2 separate regions of the Homo sapiens genome follow, and region 2 is linked to region 1. Evidence: fine-mapped expression QTL. Tissue or cell type: whole blood. Region 1 holds a variant in brackets; the other region holds the start of a gene. All regions are shown on one strand. Distances are between the middles of the regions.

Region 1 (2,683 bases):
TTATGGTGTTTGAAGATCTCTATGTTATAAATATATTTTACAGGTGGTTTTTAATTGCAAGATTAGTTGCAAGTTCTATCCAGATAGTTTAAAAACTTCTTTCTTGCCACATTTGGAGATTATTGAGCTTCAGATTGCTAAAGGACAATTTAAGTTACCACAAAATAGAAAACAAAATCAATAAGCCCATCTAAGATGTCTTGCTTATACCTAAAACTTTCATCACAAATATTTAAAATGTTTAAAGTTACCCATGTGATTTATATTGGCAAGTATGTTTCTGAATTTATTTTACATTTTAGTATCTGAATATTTTCTTTAATGACTTTTATTATTCTTTTTTTTTTCTTTTTAGAAACAGAGTCTTGCTCTGTCACCCAGGCTGGAGTGCAGGGGTATGGTCATAGCTCACTGTAACCTCAAACTCCTGGGCTCAAGTGATCCTCCCAAGTAGCTGGGACAACAGGCATGCACCACTGCACCCAGCTAATTTTTATTTTTTATTTTTGTTTGTTTTGTTTTTAGAGAAAGGGTCTTGCTTGGTTGACCAGGCTGGAGTGCAGTGGCATGATCATAGCTCACTGCAGCTTTGAACTCCTAGCTCCAAGTGATCCTCCTGCCTCAGCCTCCCAAAGTGCTGGGATTACAGGCATAAGCCACCACACCTGGCTTAGACTTTTATTAAAATTTGCAAGTCTACTAAAAATGGCCACATAATCTCTTTAAACTAAAAAGGACATAAAACAAGCCATAGAAAGTAACTAAATGTGAAAACATTTTCAATCTGGATTCAGCATCAAGCAGTACTGTAAAAATAGTTTCTTTCATATTATCAAATGTGTTTTTCCTACTCACAGTCATTTCATAAAGAAATTCAACATTCCTCTCAACCTCAAAGTACACTTCTAAATTACGGATTAGCACTACTTTCTATCTGATCCGTTCTACGTTAATGTTACAAAGTTACAGTCTATTTTACGTA[A/C]CTCTGCCTCCCACTTTGACTTCCTACCTTTTTCCATACCAGAGCAACGCCATAGGTATTTTTATCATCATCATCAAAAGTCATGCATTTCAGAGTGCTTCTATTAGGAAAATGAAAACTACATTCTTCAAAAGATAATACTTCTAATATTTGAACATTTCAATGAAAATCTTTCAAAATCACATTGCATATTTTCCTGCCTTGTTGAACACAGCACATTTTGAACTTTGCCTGGTGGCTCTGCCCTATGAATATCAACGCAGGCTTTTGTCTACATACTCTTCATCCCTGTGAGCTTCAAGAGCAGCATTCAAATGTGTTCTGAAGTGTAATGGAGAATTCATGGAGCACCTGCAAGTTCTGCAGAACTCCATGCCCACTTCAGCTGGAGCCCCTCTGCTCCTGTCTGTTCTCCATATTGGATTTCCACATTGGATTTTGTTGAACAGAGGACTTCTCAGATGAAAGTAATTGTTTAGAATTTGTTGCGCCCAGTTATGCCCAAGGTCTTTGTTTTAGTTCTAAGATTTCATGCAACTTATTATTATATAATCCAGCTGTAGATTTTGGTGTATGACTGGTTTAACCACTTCTGCTGCTGTTGAGACTGCCTCTAACAGCAGACTCTAGAGAATTGGGTTTTAAACTTTGGACTGGAAACTTTTTTAAGGAATATGAGTAGCAAAGAAGGAAGCAAAGAAAACAAATGTTGTGGCAAGCAAGAAGAAGTAATTATTTTAGCAAAGATCAAGGAGCTAATAGCTGCCAACTTATATAGAGCTTTAGAATTTAAAAGTGTACATATCTACATTACAACATTTGGTTCCCACGAAAACCCCATGAGGTCAGAAGGCAAGGCTTCTTAGCCCCATTTTACTGATGGAACTCAGAGTGGTTGTGCTCATAAATGGTAGATATATGACTAGAACCCCAATATTTCTCATCTTTATTCCTGAGCTTCCCCAATACAAGTGTTTAGGGTGGAGATTCTCTCATAGGTTAAAAGGTAAGTATGATTGAAACAAAATGTTTCCAAAGGGTACTCTCCACTTAAGTGGCAAGCACATGGCTAATTCATGAAATTGTCTTTTACTTTTCTATTATATGACCACATGTGTTTATAATATTTCAGCTTGTTGAAGAATATACTTAATGCCATTTTTCTATGTGCTCTCTAGAAGCAGTCAAATAGTAGCTGGGTAAAAGCTAGTTTACACAGTGTCTTCAATTAGCAATGTGAAGTAAGTTTCTTTAACAGTGCCATGTCTAAAATAGTGCCTTCCTTGCTTGCTCCTCCTTTCATTTTGTTTTCTGGTTTTTTTGTTTGTTTGTTTTTAACATGAGAACATGAACTTGGCTTACAGAGTGAGGGAGAGAAAAGCCATTTTCACCCTGTAAGTCAAGTTCATGTTCTCATGTAAAGCTCACAGGAGGAGAAAAGATTCCATTTTCCATTGGGTCCTTTATGCTTTCACAGAAATAAAATGAACATAATAGAGACTTTACCTACTGCCATTAGTTGCTGTGAAATGCTTTTCTATAACCCAGAAGAACATTTCCAAAACAACTTGGGGAGCTAAGTGGGAGGAAGGAGAACATTTCTTCATAAAAACAGGGCTAATGGGTGTGGTAATTATGGGGACCTGCACATAAGGCTAAGAAGAAGAAATTTAAAAAGTTTCAAAGATATTCTATTCAGAT
Region 2 (2,683 bases), 370 kb after region 1:
AGTCCGGGTGCAAGTCAGAACTCTTTCATCTTTGCTAAACCAGAGCGAGATGTTTTCTTTCGACTGTTTCATCTACTTAGAATTAATAGCATTTCTCCTCCCGCCTCCCGGCCCCCGCCCCCCGCTCCCCGGGTGGTGAACGCCTGAAGAGGGAGGCGTGGTCCCGCGCACCTTGTCTCCGGCCGCGCCACCGGCACTCACCTGGCTGCTGCCGTGCTCCTCGCCCGTCTCCGGGGCCCGAGACTCCGCGGGACTCCGCGCCGGCTCTGCGGGAGGAGGCGGCGGCTCCAGCAGCTGCTCCAGGCAGGCGGTGCCCGGCAGAGAGGAGCTCTTCTGGTGGCACAAGTGCGCCCCGGGGCCCTGACGCCGTGCACCCTCATCTCGGGCGCGGTCCCCCCTCGGGGGAGGCTGGGGCGAGGAGGACAGGGAGGATGAGGCGGAGGAAGAGGAAGGAGCTGAGTCGGGGGAGCGTCCGCCAGGAGGCGTCCCTCCCGCTGCTCCCGAGGCCGCCGCGGGCCCCTTTACGGCGGGGAGCAAATGCTCGCGGATCCGGCGGCGTAGCGTGGACCCCTGCTCGGCTCTGCCGGCGCCGCCGGGCTCCAGGGGCTCCGGCGACGAGCAGCACAGGTTGGGCTGCGAGGAGGAGAAGACTCGGTCCAGCACTTGCTTCCGCTTCTTGAAGCCGCTCCACCTGCTGCCTGCACCACTCCCCCTGGCCGGTGCATTCCCTGTGCCCACCGGGGGTGGCGGGGAGGGCGACGGGGTGTCCGCAGTGCGGCGCTCTGGACCCCCAGCGCGCCCGCCCCCGCCGCCCTTGCTCCTGCCCACCCCCAGCTGCAGGTTCTTCCAGAGCCGGGCCTGGAAGGAGGAGGACGCCGCCGGCGGCTCTGGCTCGCCCGCCGCGGCAGCCCGGGGCTCCATCCTCCACCCCCTGCTCCTCCTCTCCCCTCCTCCTCCTCCTCCTCCTCCTGCTTCTCCTCCCTCTTCGGCTGCACCTCCTCCCGGGTCCCCGCGGCGCTGGCGGTGGCGGCGGCGGCGGCGGCGGGCGCAGCAGCAGAAACCGGGAGTGCCCAGCGACTTCAGGCCAGCTCGGGGGAAAGAAGCGGCCGCCGCCGCCGAGGCTCTCTGGCCTCGGGACTCCGGCGCTGCCTCTTCCTCCCGCACCTGCTGGGGTGGGCTGGAGCCGTAACCGAATCCCGGCCGCGGCGCCTGCAAAGTTTTTCCCTCGAAGCTCCGCGGCTCCAGTCCACTGGCGTCCCCCAGGCCGCGCCCTGGCTCCCTCTTCTCTCTGACCGAGCTCGGGAAGCTGCACGCACCGGGGCGTGCGCGTCCAGCTGCGCCAGGGACCGCACCCGGCGCCCTCTGGGCAGCACCTGTCAGCGGCGGGGGCGGCTGCCTCCAAATTGGGCGCGCACGCGGCTCACACAACAAGGCGCGTCTGGCTGGAGACTCCGGGGACCAGCAGTCCCCCTGGGGCGCCCCGGGACCATCCTCCAGCTCCTAGGTGGGAGGGCCGGTAGGAGCCGGGTGGAGCTAGGTAGGGCCCGAAGCCAGCTTGCTCCCTAGGATCCGGCCACAGTTGCCCAGGCAGCTCGCTGTGCGCTGGCCGCTGGCCGCGCTGGCGATCGTCTGGGTCGGATGAAGCGAGCTGGAGTGGAAACTATGTGCCCTCGATGGGTCTCGTGGGGGCGCCGATCGTCCACACTGAGCGATGAACCCGACGGAGTTCTAAAGCTGAAGACGTCTGCCCCCGCCCCGTTGCGCTCCCTGGGTCCAAGACGAGAGTTTAATTTCTTCTGTCTTGACTTCATCCCCATCCACCCCTCCCTTTTCTTTATTTGCCTCTGCACTGGTCTCTTATGATCAGGTTCTAGCATTTCCGGAGTCTGACGATAAAGCCAGCCCTTAAGTTGCAGGGAGTTTACGGTGGACGAAGATGGGTGATGCGCACTGCCTTTGATCCGATTCGGCACGCACAGAATCTTGTTCTTTTCATTCAAGCGCATTTTTTCTTTGGTTACTTCATTTGCTTGTTGCAAGGCAAACGGAAAAGGCTTTTTAGCTCATTCAGACTTTGCTTCTCCCAAAGCTGCTCAGCCAGGGTCTTCTGATTCTGCTAGGAGAGACTTCTGAAAGGCCAGCAACACAATGCCTCTTTCGTCCTCCTAAATGGGGAAAACGGGAGAGTTCCCTAAGCTGCGGTAGCACACTGATCAGTCTTGTCTAGCTAGCAGTATGCTTTGGAGGTGTTACCAACCTAAGTTTTTTGTTTTGTTTTGTTTTTGTTACCTTTATAACAAATATTTATTAAGCACCTACTATATACCAGGCACTGTGATAGGCTCTGGGGATGCAGCTGTGAACAGGGCATCAGGGTCCCACCCACATGGAGCTTATTGTGAGGGTGAGGGTTGGGAGGTGATGCGAGACAATAAACAGAATTTCTAATATGCAAAAGTCCCATGGAAACAGTTAAGCAGGGTACCACATAACAGAGTGGCTACAGAGGAAGAGCTTCCAGACAAAATGCAGGACACCCAATTAAACTGACTTTCAGAGAAACAATGAATAATATTAGTATATGTATGTCCCAAATATTGCATGGGACATACTTATACTAAAATACTATTATTTATCTGAAATTTAAATTTAACTGGGTGTCATGTTTTTGTTTGCTAAATCT

The links. PIP is the estimated chance that this variant, and not a neighbour inherited with it, causes the effect.
Region 2: it holds the start of MCTP1, and the variant in region 1 is fine-mapped to the expression of MCTP1 in whole blood (TOPMed, PIP above 0.99).

Annotation. Positions count from the first base shown.
Region 1 is chr5:94,913,369-94,916,051 of GRCh38, forward strand. The region is part of intron 8 of MCTP1 (multiple C2 and transmembrane domain containing 1); the gene reads right to left. Among named protein-coding and RNA genes, the nearest start is that of MCTP1-AS1, 64 kb to the right of the region's middle. The variant A/C (reference allele first, on the strand shown) is at 983.
Region 2 is chr5:95,283,655-95,286,337 of GRCh38, forward strand. MCTP1 (multiple C2 and transmembrane domain containing 1) reads right to left here and starts at 1,440. Exons shown (of 23, transcript NM_024717.7): 1 at 202-1,440. The coding sequence starts at 921. RefSeq lists silencers at 529-648, 729-788.